5 separate regions of the Homo sapiens genome follow, and regions 2, 3, 4 and 5 are each linked to region 1. A link means that fine-mapping ties the variant in region 1 to the expression of a gene that starts in the linked region. Tissue or cell type: whole blood. Region 1 holds a variant in brackets; each other region holds the start of a gene. Each region is shown on its reference strand, or each on the opposite one. Region 1 overlaps IKZF1 (IKAROS family zinc finger 1). Region 2 holds the start of MYL4 (myosin light chain 4). Region 3 holds the start of B4GALT3 (beta-1,4-galactosyltransferase 3). Region 4 holds the start of ECSIT (ECSIT signaling integrator). Region 5 holds the start of OPTN (optineurin).

The links. PIP is the estimated chance that this variant, and not a neighbour inherited with it, causes the effect.
Region 2: MYL4 starts here. The variant in region 1 is fine-mapped to the expression of MYL4 in whole blood (TOPMed, PIP above 0.99).
Region 3: B4GALT3 starts here. The variant in region 1 is the best candidate, but not a certain one, in a credible set for the expression of B4GALT3 in whole blood (TOPMed, PIP 0.84).
Region 4: it holds the start of ECSIT, and the variant in region 1 is fine-mapped to the expression of ECSIT in whole blood (TOPMed, PIP above 0.99).
Region 5: it holds the start of OPTN, and the variant in region 1 is fine-mapped to the expression of OPTN in whole blood (TOPMed, PIP above 0.99).

What each region holds. Positions count from the first base shown.
Region 1 is chr7:50,358,553-50,362,552 of GRCh38, forward strand. All of the region lies in intron 3 of IKZF1 (IKAROS family zinc finger 1), which reads left to right. Among named protein-coding and RNA genes, the nearest start is that of IKZF1, 56 kb to the left of the region's middle. RefSeq lists enhancers at 1,699-2,218, 2,219-2,736. The variant G/A (reference allele first, on the strand shown) is at 1,732.
Region 2 is chr17:47,207,675-47,211,834 of GRCh38, forward strand. MYL4 (myosin light chain 4) reads left to right here and starts at 1,674. Exons shown (of 7, transcript NM_002476.2): 1 at 1,674-1,883. The coding sequence starts at 1,749.
Region 3 is chr1:161,175,621-161,179,780 of GRCh38, forward strand. It overlaps B4GALT3 (beta-1,4-galactosyltransferase 3), which reads right to left and starts at 1,887. Exons shown (of 8, transcript NM_003779.4): 1 at 1,803-1,887; 2 at 814-959; 3 at 188-454. The coding sequence starts at 440. It also overlaps a transcript of PPOX not described here. RefSeq lists silencers at 658-707, 1,547-1,596, 1,807-1,976 and enhancers at 1,575-2,074, 3,213-3,714.
Region 4 is chr19:11,526,952-11,531,111 of GRCh38, forward strand. It overlaps ECSIT (ECSIT signaling integrator), which reads right to left and starts at 2,183. Exons shown (of 8, transcript NM_016581.5): 1 at 2,111-2,183.
Region 5 is chr10:13,098,010-13,102,112 of GRCh38, forward strand. OPTN (optineurin) reads left to right here and starts at 2,154. Exons shown (of 15, transcript NM_001008212.2): 1 at 2,154-2,293. It also overlaps a transcript of CCDC3 not described here. RefSeq lists silencers at 1,430-1,489, 1,960-2,529 and an enhancer at 2,810-2,939.

The sequences.
Region 1 (4,000 bases):
GGCTTGGTGATGTCCTGTGCATGGCTCGGACTCCAGAGCTACTCAGAGGCAGAGGCCGTCTGTAAACACCTTCAGGTGGTTGGAGGCAGGGTGCTGCAGCCAATGCTGATCACTCACAAGCCAAGGCTTTATTGTAAGGGCTAAATAAAATAACATATGCCTAGCATTTATACAGCACGGGGCTTTTTAGGAAATAGTGAGACGACCATGGAGAGGTGGAGGAAGAGAGAAGGGAAAGAAGAAAAAGAAAAAAAAAGCCTTAAAGAGTTTCTTAAGAGAACTATATATTACAAAGTCCTTGGAGTTTTTTTTCCCTGGTTAGACATAAGTTTACATGAAACGTTAAACGGCTTAAAGTAGCCACATCTCCTTCCTTATGTCTTCTCACAGCCACTTGTGAGTTTCTTATCAAGATACAGAATTATGGCCAAGTGCGGTAGCTCACACGTGTAATCCCAGCACTTTGAGAGACTGAGGTGGAAGGATCATGTGTGCTCAGGAGTTTCAGACCAACCTAGGCAATATGGTAAAACCCTGTCTCTACAAAAAAATACAAAAATTAGCTGGGCATGGTGGCATATTCCAATAGTTCCAGGCACTCGGGAGGCTGAGACAGGAGGATTGCTTGAGCCCAAGAGGTCAAGACTGCAGTGAGCTGTGATCGAGCCACTGCACTACAGCCTGGGCCACAGAGCAAGATCCTGTCTCAAAAAATAAAATAAAATAAAATAAATTCTGCAACAAGTCACAATTCCTTGCTCAGAAATCTCTACAGGTGTGCTTCTTTGTTAAGAAATGGAGGAAACATGAATTTCATCCTGACTTCTGAGTCTTGTAGAGACCAGATCTGACTCCTGCAGCCTTCTGCCCACAGAGCTGGCAGGCGGGGGAATGTGCGCAGAGTGAGGAGGAGCTGATCTGACATTCCGAACAGTGGAGACTGCTGCCTATTTGGCCGCACCACTGTCCTTCTGCATGGAAAAGTCACAGTAAATAATGGACTCTCTACCTGTGAGTCGATTTTACTGAGCTGCCTTTTTAAATATATGTGTAGAAAGGGCGATCTCTGTGTGTCATTTGCACATGTACATACACATGTACACACGTGCACACGTGGTCACTCATGTACACATGTGTGTGCACCAGTGCACCAGACCAGATGCACCCACCCAATTCCACGCTCCTCAGCCCCTTGCTTTCCTCTGCAGACAGCCAGTTCAGCTACAGTTATGCCAGATTGCCTGCACTCTGATCTTTACCATCACCAGACTCTCAGCTTGAGCTCATGCCTGAGAAATCCACTTTCTGGGAGGAAGGCAGAAGAAACTGCCAAGGCAGGACTGAAGACTTGACCTCCACCTGTAGTGGGGTCAGGTCACCAGAGGCTGGCTGACTCCCCAGGATTTCTCAGCAGAGTATTACACAAATACCCCTTCCTTAAAGATTAGCAACCACTTAAAGACACAAAGTGTGCAGGACTGTACCCATGGCCGAGAGCGGCGGGATTAAGAGGGCAACTGAGTTGTTCTTCCCATCCCTCCTCCTCTGTGCTGAGTCACCTTCTGCTTGGAATTCTGACAGGGACCCGTTGGGCTTCTGGAAGGGAGGGACAGCAGAGGATCCACCCTCTGTGTGTCCTGGGGGAGATTACTTATCTCTGGCCTCCCTGAAGCAGGGCCTGGGCTTCTGGAATCTTTGAGGCTGACACCCTGCCAGCCCTGGGGATGAGAG[G/A]GAATGGCCGTGTCTGTCTGCAGAGCCTGAGGAGGAGCTGAGCACAGCCTCCAGAGTTCTCTTCAGTTGATCGCTTAGGTGGACAAAGGCCACAGAAATGGATTTAAACTCCTCAGCCCTTTCTTTGCATGTTTGTTCTCATTTGAAGTCAGAAGTGATATGTCCTACACCTCAAGAACGTGTGAAATGCACATACAATAACCCCATTTCAGGAAGCCAAGTCCAGCTTAACAGTCAAAACATTTCCTTCAGTCTTTAGTCCTTCACTTTGCCGAACTCCCTTTTACACCGGCAGCAACAGTTTAACCTGTTGCTTCTGTAAGAGTGTGCTACTGGGAAAACCACATCTAAAACACGTGTGCAGTTACATCAGCTAGAGCACATGCTAAACAGTTGATCAAAGGCTCTTGCCTTGTGGCCCACGCTGCAGACACTCTGACGACTGCCGAGCTCCGCAGCCCCATGTCGTCCCTTCCGCACTGCCTGCTGTGCCTCTCCTCTCCATGTGGCAGGGAACACAGCCAGTCATCACCATGTGGCTCTGCCCGGCGCTGCCCCAGCATGTCCTGACAGGGCCTAGATATGGAAAGGTGGCTCTCCATGCACACACCCCAAGCCCCTCCTGCCCGCCGTGTGACCCACACTCTTATGGGCAGCCCAGTTATTTTGTAGCATTTCCCTTCCTTATCATTTTGGCCCAGTGATCCAGCACAAATCTCCCTTATTAGAATAAAATTTGGAATGACAAAATTAAATTTCATTTTTCACTTATATTGAGGACCTCACACTCTTCACCCCTGCCACGATCCCTGACAAGAGCCTTCCTATCTAATCATTGTTCCTCCAGCCCTCTTAGTTTTCTTCAGCCTTTCTTGATTGCCTGAATGTCCCTTTCCCTTCTCCTTTTAAAGCATGAACCAAGCTTTCTTACCCCGTTCTCATTATCATTTTTGCATTTTCTTCTTTGCATATGATTCTCCTTAAATTATAAAACTTGGGGGTAATTTCTAGAGGTGCCATCATAGTGCTTCTGTCTACTCAGTGTCTTTAGAATCAGCAAATATCATTTTTACAAAAAAGTAGTATTTCTTCCAAAAAAGAGTAAGCAAGAAGGTTACAACACTGGGAAAATATCCCTAAGCCTGTTCTTCAACCTGTTGAATGTTTTCCCCTAAATTGTTATATGGAGATCCTGGACCCGGAAGTTGGCTGACATGAAACAGGCCTAGCAGGGCAGCTGAGGAAATGCTCCAACCTCAGGATCCAGGAAGATTGCACATGGCACCAAAACAATCATTTAAAAGCTAATCCTGGCCAGGCACAGTGGCTCACGCCTGTAATCCCAGCACTTTGGGAGGCCGAGGTGGGCTGATCACAAGGTCAAGAGATCGAGACCATCCTGACCAACATGGTGAAACCCCATCTCTACCAAAAGTACAAATATTAGCTGGGCATGGTGGTGCGCGCCTGTAGTCCCAGCTACCCGGGAGGCTGAGGCAGGAGAATCACTTGAACCCGGGAGGAGGAGGTTGCAGTGAGCCAAGATCATGCCACTGCACTCCAGCCTGGTGACAGAGCAAGACTCCATCTCAAAAAAGAAAAAAAAAGCTAATCCCATAAAAGAACCATCATTTTGAACCTGCTGTTTCCTTTCTTGTACTCTTTAGAAGTACCCATTTCTCCCTTTCTAAGCCATAGGTGTATTAATTGGAGCTTTTTCTATCTTAATTAGTTCACTGTGAACAATTAAAATTGTGTTAATAAAACAAAAACAAAAATAGGACTGGTGCCTAGTTGTACTACATGAAGAGAGAAAGGGCCAGACATTGGTTTTTCCTAATCTTCTGTCAAGTTCTCCAAATCATCTGCTCTGGAAGGTAGCTCCAACAGCTGGGATTTGAAGTAAAGCATAGTGACTTTGGCCATCACTGACATGTCCCATTTGAAGCAACCAAAACTGTCCCTCGACCTGACACTCATCCCTGAAACACCATGAGGGTAAGTGAGGCGCTTCGGAAGGTCCACTCAACCCCATTGCCAGATAGAGTAAGTGTCTGCCAGGGGCATTTGGAGCTGAAGGGAAGACTGTACAGACTCACGGTTTGCAGGCACTGAAGGCGTTTTCCTGCCTTCTTTTTCACCTTCAGTGGACTTGCAAAGCACTAGCCCTATTGTTTTTCCCATCTGGGAAACATGGTGAATGTTGGTTGGTTGTAGCTAATCCTATGGGTCTTGAGGTCTTTGTTGACAAGAAGGTAGATGTTATCTT
Region 2 (4,160 bases), not on the chromosome of region 1:
GAGTCTAAAGATTCAGCACAAAGCAGTTTTGTGTAGTGGATACATAAGCTTTTTTGTTGTTATTTTTCTGAATTATTTTGTTGACTTTCAAAGTTTTTTTTACATAAACAGTAAATGCTCGTTATAAAAATTTCCATTAATACAGGAAGTGAAAAAAGTAAAAAACTGCAAATTGCTGTTATCCTCCCACCCTTACCCCCTAGGTCCCCAGAGGTGTCTCTGTTAACAGTTCAGCGTGTATCCATCCTGACTCCTCCAATAAATGCAGAAACTTGTATGTCTCTCCCCGACAACTGGATTATCATATACATTATTCAAGCATAGGCTTTAGACTCAGACATATCTACATCTAATCCCAGCTTATAGCTAATTATTTGAGTGACCTTGGCCAAGTTGTTCATCCAGTTTTAGTCTCAATCTCCCCATGTGTAAAGTGAAAATAATAATAGTATCTACCTGGCCTGGCGTGGCGGCTTATGCCTATAATCCCAGCCCTTTGGAAGACCGAGGCTAGTGGATCCCTTGAGCTCAGGAGTTCAAGACCAACCTGGGCAATTTAGCAAGACCTCATCTCTACTGAAAAACAAAAAACAAAAAAACTCCCCCAAAATTAGCCAAGTGTGCTGGTGTGCACCTGTAGTCCCAGCTACTCGGAAGGCTGAGGTGGGAGAATCGCTTGAGCCAGGAAAGACGAGGCTGCAGTGAGCTGTGATTGCACCACTGCACTGCAACCTGAGCAACAGAGCGATACCTTGTTTCTGTTAAAACAAACAAACAAACAAAATAGTATCTACCTTATAGGATCATGGTGAAGATTTAATGAGATTTTATATGAATAGCACTTAACAGTTCCTGGTACTGATAGTAGTAAGCACTACACACACACACACACACACACACACACACACACACACAGAGCACAGAATGAGTTAGAGGTAAAGTGAAAACTAAACCCCAAGTTTTCTGACCCTCAGTCTCCTCGACTTTCTACCACATCTCTCTGCTTCTCTCCTAGGTGCCTAGGCATGGGTTCAGTGCTCACTACTTGTTGAATGAATGACTGAGGTTGTGTGTAAGGGGGTAGATCTAGGGATCTGAGGTCTGTGGAGTTCCTGGGATGCCTGCTCTGGAAAATGGAGGCTTTCATCCTGTGAGTTGGGAGGGTGTGGGGCAGTGTGGGTTGGCTGGACCAGCTGTTGCTTCAGAGCTCCATGCCTGGAGAGTTGGGCCTCTAGGCAGAGCTGAGGGCCCAGAGTGGCTCTCAGCTTAAAGGATCTTGGCTTAGAAGGAATGTGCAGTGGGCTGCCTCTGCTCGGGAGGGGCTAAAAAAAGCCTCACCCTCCCCTGGGCTTTGTGTGAGGCTTATCAACTGCTCAAGTCAGCTCATCTCTCTGGCTGCTCCGGCATATTTGAGAAGGTCTGTTTCCCTGGTCCTTCTGGGTTTCCACCAATTGGCAAGAAGGGATCAGCCTGTCCTAGAGGTGAAGAGAGAGCTGTGGCATGAAGGGGAGGGGGCTGGTGGCCCCAAACCTGGTGACAATACACAGTTGTCAGCTGTACCCTGCTGGCGTTTCTTCCTTTTATAGTCAGCAGCAGTTGCTCTTGCTTTCACCCAGCCCCTCTGTGGGGGCTCCTGCCCAGGATAAAAGGGAAGGGAGGCAGCCCAGGCTCCTATCTCATCTCCCAGACGCCACGTCTCTCGGTTTCTTCTTAGATCACTCCTCTGCCAAAGATCCCAACAAGACAACATGGCTCCCAAGAAGCCTGAGCCTAAGAAGGAGGCAGCCAAGCCAGCTCCAGCTCCAGCTCCAGCCCCTGCACCAGCCCCTGCCCCAGCTCCTGAGGCTCCCAAGGAACCTGCCTTTGACCCCAAGAGTGTAAAGGTAAGTGAGGCTCAGCCATTGGGATAGAGGTGGGGATGACATTGAGAGTCCTTTTGCTCTGGAGCTTAGCGATCTACTTTATGTGGGCTGGACTGGGATGAGGACTAGGGTGTCCATGCCCCAGATCGCAGTCCCATGGGGCAGTGGAGTGGGTGTTGGGGCTGATGAGGGGGAGATTGAGTCATAAACCTTTTCCGTCAAGAATGAGGTGCTGCTTTGAGGGAGCCCTGTCCTGCTACCCTAGATTTGTGCAGCTAAGTTGGGAATGGGGGGAGGTACAACCAACCATCCATCCACCCTTTTATAAGGCATTATGAGGACCACCATAGCAAAGTAAAACAGACTAGCCTTTTCCTAGGAGGTAGTGGGATATCTTTATGGAGAACAGACAGATCATGGCAGCTGCCAGTGTAACTTGGAGTAAGTGATATAAACAGTCAGGGAATATCCTCCCTGTGCATGGCAGTTTGGGAAAGGCTTCACTCACAAACACTCTTACGGCAGGTGAGGGCAGGGTGGGAAGGAGGTTGTGGTTAAGGTAAGAGGAGCCCGGATTCCTCTCTCTCTTTCCTTACCCAGACGGGCCTTTCCTTCTGTGGCCTTAGCCTGGGTTCCTATCTGTAGCATGCAGAGGACTGGCCCACCCTGGGCTGAGACCCTCTCTCCAACCGGGTCAGGAAGCTGGGCCTGGTTCCTTTGCCCCACCCTGCTCTCCTCACACAAAACATTCCTCTCCCTGGAGCTGGTGTGGGCCCTGCATGCTGACTCAGTCATTTTAGACCTCCCAGCTCTCTGGCCCAGCTGCTGAAGGAATGGAACTGGTGGGAGAGGGGTGGGCTGAAGAGGGAGGGGGCCAGAGACCTCTGAAGAGGAGCAGTTTTAAGCCTTGGCACCAGAGTGGAAAAGGTCAAGTGGCTACTGGTATGAAGAGCTATTAATAACAGGTTGGGAGTGCTGAGCCCCCAGGGATCTCAGCCTTAGGACAGGGCTGGGGGTGGTGAGGGATCAGGTCAAAATAAGAGCACAGGACAAGGTTCTGTGACAAGCAGGCAGGGAAATTAAAACCCAGAGCTCTAATTGTATGACCTCCCTGCCCTCTGAGAATTCCTCTCATACCCACAGCCGGGATAACCCTACAAGTATTATGCCAAAGACCCAGTCCCCGCAAGGGACAGGAACTGCTTAGCCAAGAGATGGAGGCAATTGTCCCTTTTCTGAGCTTGGTTATGGCTCACTCTGGGGAAACTGAGGCTACTGTAGGACCCTGAAAACACCTGCAGGTTTTCTAGGTCATACATCACTCCATTTACAAGCTGAGCCTGGCAGGAAAAGCTGACTATTTCACCCTTCAGGATCCCTCCTCGCCTTTATTTCTGATTTGTTCCCATAAAGCACTGTGCCTTTGGGTGGGTTGCCAGGCCTTGTCCCTGGTGTCTGGGCAACAGCTGCCTAGTGGCATCAAACTGGTGTCCTTCCCTTGGCCTGTCACTTCTTTCATTCACTCTCCTCTCTCAATTTCTCACCCGTGAGAAATTGCACCCCTGGTTGCAATCCTCTTTTCCATATCTGCATCTTCATGGGGGTTGTTGAAGTTGCTTTGAAGTAGAAAAAAAATAGGTATCTTTTATGAGAGACATTTTCCCTATTATTGTGTTATACTTACCCAGTTCCTTTGATTAGAAGGTTCTTTACTCCAAGACAGAAGAGAAGCCAGATGAGGTGATTCATGTTTATAATCCCAGCCCTTTGGGAGGCTGAGGCGGGAGGGTAATTTGAGGCCAGGCATTTGAGTCCAGCCTGGGCAACATGGCAAGATCCTTGTCTCTACAAATAAATAAATAAATTATAAAAAAGATTCGAAGATAGAACAGAAGCAAACTTAAGCCCAGTGTGTGTAGTTAGGACCACGTCTATTGAGATTTTAAGTTTTTACATTAATTGCTCTTACATGTTTATTCCTGGTTCTTAAAGCATTGTAAAGTAAGGCAAACTGTGCCTTTTCCTCAGAGAGTGAATGCAGAGCATCCTTCACCCCATCTAGGGGGTTCCTTTAACTTTCTGACCACCCCCTACTTTTGGCAGTCTATTCCTAGCCACAACTAGTTTTCTTTCCAACCCAGTTAACTCCCCACTGCCCCAACCTATCCCCAGCTCATGGCTGCCATATCTGGGTCCTCATGAATGGAGGTCAGTTCTCGGAGATGAGACAGGATGGGCACAGCACAAGCAGCAGCAGAATTAGGACTAGGAATGACGGCACTTGAAGAAGAGGCTCCA
Region 3 (4,160 bases), not on the chromosome of region 1:
AACTCCCAATTCAGAGTCTACTCTATCTCAACCTCAGCCCTCTATCTCAACCTCAGCCTACCTGCAGCCTCAGCCTACCTATCCTCTTCTAAGTTCCACTTCTGCCACTCCATGCCTCCCTATCCCCAAGCCTCCCTGTCTCCGCACCTTGTCCTTCCTTTCACCACCTCCTTCCTCCTGCACTTACCTAAGAGAGGAGATCGTTCTGGACAGTAGGGCAGACCTTGAGGAGCTGGAGGACCCCCTGGGGCCCCAGGCAGGTGACTGAGGTTACTGTAGACATCACGAGGGTGAGAATAGTCAAATGTCGGTCCCTGATCTCGGCCAAATAGGGCACTGAGACTTCGGAAGCCCCCCAGTGACAGGTACATCATGACAGCCAGCTGGGAGCCCACAAGCAGGGCCAGCGTGCAAGGCCGCTCCAGCAGCCTCCGCAACATCCTGGGGGTGAGATCTAGGGAGGGAGAGGGGAATTCTGGGGGTAGGCAGGAAGAGAGCAAGCCAGCAGAGAGGTCAGTAGGTAGGGTTGAAGGTGATGCCAGGGGTAAAGAGGAAAAAGCAGAAAACAAAGTCACAGAAGGGAGCACACAGGTGCACAGTCACGCAAGGAAACAGAATGTAACCACCAGTAACCCTACCACCTGTCACTTCAGCCCAAGTTTCGCTCTCCTCTACCTCCCCCCAAACCACTCCCACCATCTACTGTCAGTCCTCACCCCCAAAAATGTTTACATCATTCAAATCTCATGTTCATTTCAGAAAGTCTCTAGAGAACCCCCTCTTCCAATTTTAGAAGGGAAGAGATAGACTCACCTAGGTTCAAGCTGTCTTCTTAGGGATCATGGGGGCTCCAGGGGGTCCCGGGGGGACAGAGATGTGAGGCATTATCTAAAATTGGAAATGTCACAGAGGGCAGAGAAAGGCTCCATCCAGCACTCCAGCAGCGAATCTGGGACCAGCTGGAACAGAAGTGGTAAAGGATAACTAGCTACCTGCACCGCCAGAGATCAGGATCAGGGTGAAGCTGGTTTCCCAGCAGGCGAAGTGAAGGAAAGTGGTTGGAAAGGAAGAGGAGGAGCAGGAGATGGTAGGTCCCTCGCCTATCTCCCGTGCTACCCTGGAATGATAAGTGTCAGGTTCATACTTAACCACCCCCGTACCCCCACCCCAACAGGACAGATTGGGGAGTGGGGACAGGACAGCTAATGGAAACATTGTTTTCCCCCAGACCAAGAACCAGTTGAAGTGGCGACAGAGTCATGACAGGACCGTGGAGTGGCCTAAGGAGTACCCAGGGCGAAGTAGGAAACAGGCTCCTTCTATTCTTCATGTGCCTGGGTGCCAACTCCTCAGGTGCAGGGACCGTGACCACCTGGGGGCTGTAAGCGAACAGCCCCGGAGCTCGGCGGAGAGTAGGGTGGGGGTGGCGTCCTCTACCTTTTCTACCTTTCCCCTCTTCTAGCGGGGGTGGGGAGGAGGGTTACTGCTGAAGAGAAAGGGAGAGGGAGAGCAGGGGCAGAGACAGTCAGGGGTGGCTGGAAGGGCTCACCTAGAGGGGCGTGGTCCGCGCTGTGGAGGGGGTTAAAACCCAGCTCTTTCGGAGCACGCCCATCCTATCCCAGTCTCTTGCTTTTGCCCTACCTACTAGCAACGTGAGCCCGCCCGGCCCCCGTCCATACTTCCACCTAGGACCCCGTCCCTGCTCAGGCTCGTCTCCAGGCGTTACCCAAAACTTCTCACTCTCTCGAATGCCCAAACCTTTATCCCAGGCCTCCGTGTCGACGCATTCCCAGCGCACATACCTGGTCTTTTGCTGCCTGTCGTCACCGCCACCCCAACAGCCGGGCAGGCATCGCTGCCGCCATCTTGGAAGCGGGCGCTGCGGGGGCGGGGTCTCGCGTCATGGGGCGGGGCCTCGGGGCGGAGCCACCCGGGCTGACTAGGCACCCGGTCCCAGACACCGCGTGGCCGGGGGCTTGTGAGGGAGCAGCGCCTGAGCCTGCCCACCTGGAACGCGTTGTAGGCGACCCCCTGGGGAGCGGGTGCTAGGGTTCAACTCCACTACGCAGACTGCTAGTGGGATTTCATTTCCTGCCCCTCAGATTTGTAAAAGCAGAAGCTCAAGCCCTTCATTTTCCTCTGGGCCGAGACTGATCAGGAGGCTAGTGAGCCGGTTTCTGGTGCTCCGCTGACCTCGTTATCACCTTGTGGTTGGCTGAGCCCTCTCCCAGTGTGTCAGTGGCACCCCCTGCAGCCTAGTGCCACTTAGTATCAATTGTTCCTTACGCAGGCTACAGCGTTGCGGACCGCTCTAGCGCATTTTTGTATTCCCGTTGTATCCCGCAGGCCTGGAAATAAAAAGCGATTAGTTAATAAAACAATGAAACATTGAAGGTGGAGGGAAAGACAGCGTCTTCTTTAAAGTCAAATGATGTTTCCCCAGATATTAGAGTAAAATGGATGCTCCGTTAACATGCAATATGTTTACCTTACGACAAACACTACCGCCTAGCATATTGTGTTCCTTAGAAGCAGATATTCACGCTGAAGAAGCAATCAGAGACTTGAATAACTCACAGAATCTGCCCCAAAAAGCCCATGGTCTTGTGTATCTTGTATGGAGGGAGGGATGTAAACAATATAACGTGATAAATATGCTGGCCTAGAAGTGGCAACTCATTCATACGTGGAGATTCTAGAAAGGCTTCCCAGAAGTGATGGCTAATGGGAAACCTGAAGGACTTGTCTATAGCATATCCTTCTGCTTTAAAGATTCTGTTTTCATGGGAGTTATTTTACAATTCATGTAGGTAACTGATCTGTATGCAAATTCTATCCTGTCTGGTAGAGGTTCAATTAACCTGCTGTTCCCCACACTGTGGGGAAAAAAAGCAGTTTTGGCGTCCATTTTCATATTCATTTCTGTTTTCCTGATCCATAAATATGTCCGTTCTCTAGATTTTCTCTTGTATTAATTATAACATCTGCTAGTTTCTTCATGAGTTAGGTAAAATAAACACGTGTTCATTCTTTTCTTAATTTCTTTTTTCTTTACTTTTTTTTTTTTTTTTTGAGAGGGAGTCTCCCTCCTGTTGCCCAGGCTGGAGTGCAATGGCGCTATCTCGGCTCACCGCGACCTCTGCCTCAGCCTTCCTCAGTAGCTGGGATTACAGGCATGCGCCACCACACCCGGCTAATTTTGTATGTTTAGTAGAGACAGGGTTTCTCTGTGTTGGTCAGGCTGGTCTGGAACTCCCGACCTCAGGTGATCCACCCGCCTCGGCCTCCCAAAGTGCTGGGATTACAGGTGTGAGCCACCACGCCCGGCCTTTTTGTTTACTTTTTTTTTTTTAATTTAAAAATTTGTGACAGGGTCTCACTCTGTCACCCAGGCTGGAGTGCAGTGGCAAGATCACAGCTCACTGCAGCCTCAACCTCCTAGGCTCAAGGGATCCTCCCACCTCAGACCCGTGAGTAGCTGAGTAGCTGGGACAACAGCACATCCAGCTAATTGTATTTTTTGAAGACACAGAGTTTTACCATGTTGTCCAGGTTGGTCTCCAACTCCTGGGCTCAAACTATCTGCCCACCTTGGCTTCCCAAAGCGCTGGGATTACAGGCGTCAGCCACAGCATCAGGCCTCTTAATTTTATTTCTCTTTTTCCTTCCTTCCTTCCTTCCTTCCTTCCTTCCTTCCTTCCTTCCTTCCTTCCTTCCCTTCTTCCTCCCTCCCTCCCTTCGTCCCTTCCCTTCCCTTCCTTCTTTTTTTTCCTTTCCTTTCCTTTTTTTTTTTCCCAAATACCCAGTCTTCAAGGAGAATTTTTTTTTTTTTGAGTCGGAGTCTTGCTTTGTCACCCAAGCTAGAGTGCAGTGGTGCGATCTGAGCTCACTGCAACCTCCGCCTCCCGGATTCAAGCGATTCTCCTGCCTCAGCCTACCGAGTAGTTGGGATTACAGGCTCCCGCCACCAAACCCGGCTAATTTTTGTATTTTAGTGGAGACGGGATTTCACCATCTTGGCCAGGCTGGTCTTGAACTCCTGACCTCATGATCCACCTACCTTAGCCTCCCAAAGTGCTGGGATTATAGGCATGAGCCACTGCACCCGGCCTATGTGTTCATTTTTATGTTGGTATTGACAAAGACCATCTCCTTAACCA
Region 4 (4,160 bases), not on the chromosome of region 1:
TCAAGCAATCCACCCATCTTGGCCTCCCAAAGTGCTAGGATTACAGGTGTGAGCCACCACACCCAGCCAGAGGGAGCTTTTAAACTAAAATTAGGCCAGGCGCTGTGGCTCACGCCTGTAATCCCAGCACTTTGGGAGGCTGAAGCAGGTGGATCACAAGGTCAGTTCAAGACCAGCCTGGCCGAGATGGTGAAAGCCCGTCTGTACTAAAAATACAAAAATTAGCCAGGTGTGGTGGCAGGCACCTGTAATCCCAGCTATTCGGGAGCCTGAGGCAGGAGAATCACTTGAACCTGGGAGGTGGAGGTTGCAATGAGCCAAGATTGTGCCACTGCACCCCAGTCTGGGCGACAGAGCGAGATTCCATCGCTAAATAAATAAATAAATCAACTAAAATTAGTGATTTCTGCCTAAAATCGCTAACGGCATATCACACTTAAAATCAGAGACTGGGCACACTGGCTCATGCCTGTAATCCCAACACTTTGGGAGACCAAGGTAGGAGGATCACTTGAGCCCAGGGATTCAAGACCAGCCTGGGCAACATAGAGAGACCCCATCTCTACAAAAAAATTAAGAATTATCCAGGCATGGTGGTGAATGCCTGTCATCTCAGGTACTCAGGAGACTGAGGCTGGAGGATCCTTTAAGGTCAGTAGTTAGAGGTTGCAGTGAACCATGACTGCACTTGTGAATAGCCACTGCACTCTAGCCTGGGCAACATACTGAGATCCTGTCTCTAAAAATAAATAAATAGCCAGGGAGCAGTGGCTCATGCCTATAATCCTAGTGCTTTGGAAGTCCAAGTGGGGAGGATCGCTTGAGCCCAGGAGTTCAAGACCAGCCTGGACAACATAGCAGGACACGATCTTTACAAAAATTATTTTAAAAAATTAGCTGGACCTGGTGGTGTGCACCTGTAGTTCCAGCTACTGGGAAAGCTGAGGCAGGAGAATCACTTGAGCCATGGAGTTTGAGGCTGCAGTGAGCTATGGAGTGCACTGCACCACTGCACTCCAGGCTTGACGAACAAGTGAGATCCTGTCTCTAAAAAATAAAAATAAATAAATAAAATCAGATAGGGTCTACCCCTCTAAACTCAACTCCTACCACTGGCAGCTTCAGCTACACTGTTTCTGAAAGAAACTAAGTTTATCCCATCTCAGAACCTTTGTACTTGCTTTTCTCTCTGTCTAGAGCTTTCTTCCTCCAGATCTGCCCACAGCTGTCTCTGGTCATTTCAATGAAAGGTCTTCTTTGACCATCTCCCATTCCCCACATTCTAAAAGCCCTCATCACCCTATTAATTTTTGTTTCGGAGACAGGGTCCTGCTCTGTTGCCCAGGCTGGGGTGCAGTGGCACAATCACGGCTCACTACAGCCTCAACCTCCTGGGCTCAAGCAATCCTCCCACCTCAGCTTCCCGAGTAGCTAGGACTACAGGCGTGCACCACTACGCCCAGATAATTTTTTGTAGAGAACAGGGTCTTGCTATGTTGCCAAGGCTGGTCTCGAAACTCCTGGGCTCAAGCGAAATTCCCGACACCATTAACGCATTTTTAGTAACTTATCAGTATCTGAAATCACCTGTTTCGTTTATTTCTAATTTGTTCAAAGTCTGGTTCCCCCAGGAGATGAGAGATTTTTATCTATCTTCCTCATTGCTGTGTCTCCAGCACCAAGGACAGTGCCTGGTATATGACAGATGCCTAACGAGTAACAACTGAACGGAAACAAGCCTCAATTTCAAAAAAACACCTATAAATCTGAACCCCGAGGTATGGTGTACGTACAACAGCTTTGAAACCGGCTGCCAGGATTCTGGGTCTCTTGGGGGAAAAAGGCAGACGCGGATTCCAAATCCTGCCCGGTTGCCGACTTGCGGCGTGACCTCTCGCGAGGTCATCTGCAAAATGGGAGACTGGGGGCGTGAGGCGGCTGGCACAAGACAGGCGGCCTTTCCCAGCGCGTCCCCGCCCCCACTACGAAAGGTCATGGCGCCCTGGCCCTGCAGCTGGGTCCCTCCAGGGCTGCCCTCTCGCGCTGCCGGGTCCTGAAGGGCCCGCCTGCAGCCCAGCAGTTCGCGTTCGCCTACCCGCGCGCGACCTACCTACTCACGCGGCCAGCCGCGGACTCCAGGCCAGCTCTGTCTTGTTGCTGGGCGCTGCCATATTGGCCCAGAGAGCGTCCGGGTCAGGGAGCTCCAGGGAGGTAGCAAATCAAGAAAGCTGGTGTAATAGGTCCCGCCCACAACGCGAGGTGGGCCAATAGGAAGGCGGAAGGATCTGGGACCCGCCTCATAACGAGCCAGGCCCAGCCTCTAATGAGGCAAGACGCACTCCAGACCTGGGAACCTTGAAATGGCCCGGGAGGCTGGACTTGGGAGTCATAGTCTATGAATCCAGTCGCAGGCCCCAGCGGCTGAAATGAGAAAATGAATTAAAAAAAAACAAAAAGTGAAAGGGGGCCGGTACGGTGGCTCATGCCTGTAATCCCAGCACTTTGGGAGGCCAGAAGTTCGAGACCAGCCTGGGCAACATAGCGAGACCCCCTTATCTACAAAAAATTTAAAAATTAACTGGGCATGATGGCGCATGCTCATAGTCCCAGCTATTCGGGAGGCTGAAACGGGAGGATCGCTTGAGCCCTGGAGGTCGAGGCTACAGCGAGCCATGATTGCACCCCTGCACTCCAGCCTGGGCAACAGAGTGAGACCCTGTTTCTAAAAATAGTAATAATAAATAAATAGGGCAGGGCGCGGTGGCTCACGCCTGTAATCCCAACACTTTGGGAGGCCGAGGCCTGCGGATCACCTGAGGTCAGGAGTTCGAGACCAGCCTGGCCAACATGATGAAACCCCGTCTCTACTAAAAATACAAAGTTAGCAGGGCATGGTGGTGGGTGCCTGTAATCCCAGCTTCTCGGGAGGTTGAGGCAGGAGAATCGCTTGAACCCGGGAGACGGAGGTTGCAGTGAGCCAGGATAACACCACTGCACTCCAGCCTCAGCAACAGAGCGAGACTCTGTCTCAAAAAATAAATAAATAAATAAAAATTAGTGGGGCGTGGTGGCGTGCTCCTGTGATCCCAGCTACTCGGGAGGCTGAGGCACGAGAATTGCTTGAACCCAGGAGGTGGAGGTTGCAGCGAGCCGATATAGCACCACTGCACTCCAGCCTGGGCGACAGAGTGAGACTCCGTCTCAGTAAATAAATAAATAGGAAGGCCTCAGTGAGGTGTCCTTTGAGTAAAGGCCGGAGGAAGTGAGTGAGCCATCTGGATATCTGGGGAACGCTTTTGGCACTGGGAACAACAGCAAAGACTCTGTGTGGTCGGAGTGGAGTCTTTGGAGGAAATGGGATAAAACGAGGTGAGATTGAGTAATGGGGGCTCCTGGTCTCCCCCAGAAAGCACCAGATTTAGGCTGTTAATAACTAAGGTGGATAAGCACATAAAATGGGCTATTGGCAATAACAGTGTCCCCCGGGAAGGAAGGCTATCTGCCCTCATAAGCCCATTTCTGCAGTCCCTCAGCCTCTGTGGCGCAGTGAGCTGGCATGGAGACTAGGATGCAAGAACCTACCCTTAGGATGCCTCAAGGACTCTGCGCAGCCGCAGGACATCCACCTCATCAGAACTCTTGTGATTGGGCAATCTGAGAAAACCTGTAGCCAATCAGCTGCTTGGCTGGAGCACTCCTCTCTGGCAAGTTGACAGGCACGTGGGCAGCGGCTGGGAGCGCTACTGCCCTCTGCCAGGCTCCCGCAGCTACAAGCAAGCAGAGTCAGCTCTGCTTAGCTGGGGAGTGGGTAAGATGATGGGGTCGCTGACCTGGCTGTGGCCTTCAGAGTTATTGGTGTCCTTCTCTTGAGGTGGTCATGGCTTTTGTTTTCTTATTTATCCTTCCAGAACTAGTCTTTTAATATTTTATTTTATTTTATTTTATTTTATTTTTGGAGACGGAGTCTGGCTCTGTCGCCCAGGTTGCAGTGCAGTGGTGCAATCTCAGCTAATTGCAACCTCCGCTTCCCACATTCAAGCAATTCTCCTGCCTCAGCCTCCCGAGTAGCTGGGACTACAGGCGCATGCCACCATACCCGGCTAATTTTTGTATTTTTAGTAGAGATGGAGTTTCACCATGTTGCCTAGGCTGGTCTCCAA
Region 5 (4,103 bases), not on the chromosome of region 1:
TTTACAGATAAAGGGAATGAGGAAGGGTAAGATGAAGTAACTTGGTCAAGGTCCTACAGCTAAGAAGTGGTTGTCGGGGGAGTGTGTGTGCATGTGTGTGTGCAGTGCTTCAGGGCACCCCCCACCCCGACCCCACCACTGAGAGCAAGGAATCAGGAGAAAACAACTTTGACTGCTTTCTGTACCAGAAACTCACCTCGAGCCTCCCACACCAAAGCCATGGGCAGCTTGTGGGTGACCTTCTTCTCTTGGCTCTGAGTTTCACTGATGCTCATTTTAATTCACTTTCATAGTGTTGTTTTGTTCTCGTTTTTGTTTTTGCTTGAGACAAAGTCTCCCTCTCACCCAAGCTGGAGTGCAGTGCTGCAATCACAGCTCATTGCAGCCTCTCCCTCCTGGGCTCAAGCGATCCTCCTGCCTTGACCTCCCAAAGTGCTGGGATTACAGGTGTGAGCCACCGTGCCCCACCTATAGGGTTTTAAACAGTAAAAGGAGCCTAGTGAAGTACGACTTACCGCAGGCACCCCTTACAGGCCCCGGGGGGACCCTTTTCTGCCGATCCCAGGGTACAGCTGTGACACCGTCTTTTCTGCCTGGATTATCCCAGTAGATAAACAAAAATTAGAGATCGTCATTCCATTTCTCTCTGTATATATTTTTCCAAGCCCTTTTCATGAATGATCAGTTATTTCCTGCACTGATTTTTTTTTTTTTTTTTTTTTTTTGAGACGGAGTCTCACTCTGTCACCCAGGCTGGAGTGCAGTGGCATGATCTCGGCTCGCTGCAAGCTCTGCCTCCCGGGTTCAAGCGATTCTTCTGCCTTAGCCTCCCGAGTAGCTGGGACTACAGGAGAGTACCATCATGCCCGGCTAATTTTTGTATTTTTAGTAGAGACAGGCTTTCACCATATTGGCCAGGCTGGTCTCGAACTCCGGACCTTGCGATCTGCCTGCCTTGGCCTCCCAAAGTGCTGGGATTACAGGCGTGAGCCACCGCGCCTGGCCCTCCTGCACTGATATAAAAAGAATTTTTTTAAATTCTCTATTTCTCCCCACTCCCACCCCCAGGCTCACTCCTTATAAAGCAGCCTCTAGCCTCATCTGCCCCTCCTACACCACACCAACTCGAGGGCCCGGAATTGGGTCTGGGGCAGTCGCTGACTTGCTTGCTTCTCTGCCCTGCTCTTGGGGTTAGCCTCAGGGGCAGGGTTGAGAGTCAGGCTTGGCCAGGCAGCAGGAGGTCCAGACAGCGAAGCAGAATCCTTCGGAGATACCAGGAGAGGGCGCATCTGCCTTTTTCCTGTTTCAGATTAGGTTTTGTTGTTGTTGTTTTGTTTTTTTTCTCTCCCTCTCTCCCTCCCTCCCTCTCTCCCTCCCTCTCTCCCTCTCTCCGTCCCTCCCTCTCTCTCTCTCTCCCCCTCCCTCCTTCCCTCCCTCCCATCCCTGCAGCGCTACCCGGGTACTCTGGATGCACATAGGGCGGCTCTCGCTCCTACCTTGTCATCCTGCTGTCTAATCCGGGGGCAGCTTCCCTCCTCCACACCAGCAGAGGCTATTCTTCAGCAACAAGAATAGCCGAGCCTATTCGTCCGCAACAAGAGCCCAAGAAGCATCCTGCAGGCTTTCTGCTTTTTGAGTGTATTTTAAAGCAAAAACGAGTGGAAAGCTATGTATGCTCAGTTAACTATGTCTAGATGTTAACCTTTTTTCAAAAAACACAGATGGAGGCCTCCCTCCGAGGATGCCTGGCATTCTCCTCTTTCTGTGGGCGGCAGCGACCCCCTGCGGCTCCAGCCTCCACTACGGGATCTGCGGGAAGACACGGGGAAGACGAACTCCGCACACTGCATTTGATTAATGATTTATTTTGATTAACGCCGTCACAGTGACGCCTTAGAGCAGTCCCTGTTCACCCGGGTCCCAGCCTCGACCCCGCACGGACAGCGAGGGTGGGTAGCTGGGGGCGGACGCAGGAAAGAGGAGGGGCGGGGCCTTGGTCGGGTGGGGTATGGAATGGGCAGGGTGGGGGGGATGGGCGGGGTATGGGATGGGCGGGGCCCGGGAAATTCCCCGGCGCGGGCAGGGAGCGGCTGGCTGTCAGCTGAGCCGCGCTGGGCGGGGTCGCCAGGCCGCGCATCAGCCCTAGGCACCCCAGTCCCGGCTGCCCCCTCCGCCACCGCCGCCGCCCGCCGGCAGGTTCCCTGGTCAGCGTCCCATCCCGGTCGGGAGTTCTCTCCAGGCGGCACGATGCCGAGGAAACAGTGACCCTGAGCGAAGCCAAGCCGGGCGGCAGGTGAGCCAGGGCAGGGGGCTGCAGCGGTGGGCGAGGGGGCGGCGGCTCCTTCCCGGCGGGCGCTTCCGCGGCCTGAAAACGGTACCCGCCGCCCTGCCCCGCGGCCCGGAGCCTGTCGGGGTGAGGGTGGCGAGGGGTGGGGCGGCCCTCCCGCGAGACGGCTGCCCTGGGAGGATCCCCAAGCCTCGGCGGGTCCTGACCTGGTGGGAGAGGGTGGGTAGTGAACACAGGGTGGGCCCAAGAAGGGTCCAGGGCCGGCCTCTTGGCCGCAGGTAACCCCTCTACAAGTCACCCAGAGACTTGGAGGTGACGTCCTCCCGCAGGCTGGGAAGGATTCCGCAGCCAGTTCCTCGCCATAAGGAGGTGGTTACAGACACGCCTGTGGGAGACATGGGACCACTACCCGAGCTGAATGAGGTGCCCAGGGTCGGTGGGAATCCACATAGACTGCTGTGTCTAGGAGAGTGTGTACACTCTATATAGAGAGAATATTTGATGAGGCCGAGAACCCCAAAGGAATTGTTTTTGCCATCGAAATGCATAAGCTACAGGAAGTAAACATCGCTCAAAGAAAATGAAACCCAGGTTCCGACCTGGCCTCCACCAGCAGGAAAACTGTTGTATGGAAATGTACACCAAGGAACTGTTTGTAAGGATGAAATGGAAAATGAAAGCATAGAAAAGTAAGGCAATGTGAGGACCTCAGAAGCCTTTGGATCTGGTTAGCAAGGTGCAGGCTGTGTGAACAGAAGAACCCACCTTGCTCTTTTGACCCAGGGAGAGAAGAGTTAGTGGTGCCAGGCTGCCTCCCAGGACAGGCCCAGTTTTGGGGCGGGGGCTGGAGAAGTCCCAGGGCAGACCCCAAGGCCAGGGATTGCCCTGGAGTGGACAAGGCAAGTTTAAATGTGACCTGTAGACAGAGGACGATCATTGATTTAAGTCCTGGCATAATTCATCTGTTTTTCCACTGGGCCAATTTTAGGCGTTCTTTATATATTACGTACAACACAATAAAAGTAACAGCTTCTTTTTTTATAAACTAACCTTTAGGTTGCATATTATGCTAGGAATATAACTAACCTAACCTCCACCCCCCCACCCCCCCACCCACCCCCGGAAAACCAAACTTTATTCTCGAGGGCAACTGGACACTGTATTATGTCCTGCCGAACCCCCGCCCTTACTTAGGTAGAGGCGCATAAGTATTCTGGCCATGAAATACACCTTCTGTTTTATAGAGATTTGGCATATTTGATATATGTTCTTTGGAATTTATGAAATAGAAAACCCAAAGGAAAAAGAAAAAAATTAAACTTTTTTTTAAAAAAATATTTCATTTAGAAAGAAAAAATTAAAAGTTTTTGTTATTTCCACTTTGACATGTGTATGAGGAGCATTAGAATCTGTGTTATGAAGTGATACCCAGATGGCTTTGCAGTGACAGAAAACACTTCTAATTTTTCAAATAAGTTAGAAAGGAGGATTTTGAGAATCTGGAAGTGAATGCCGTGGAACTGTGGAGAAACTCCTAACAATACTGGCATGCTGAGTTTGTCACCTACACAGCAGAAAGCATTTTACAGGTATTAGACTTAAAAATACCTCATTATGCTATATTTTCATTTCATTTCAACCAACATTTACTGCAAGCCTGCTATGTGCCAGTCTCTAGTAAGAATAACATGGAGAGAAAATAGACGGGCAGACGATAGCAGTAATTTCAGAATGGGCGGAGGAGGTGGAAATGCAGAGTGTTCTTGGGTGCTCGGAGTAGGGAACAGTTCATATGACACAGGACATCATATTTAAG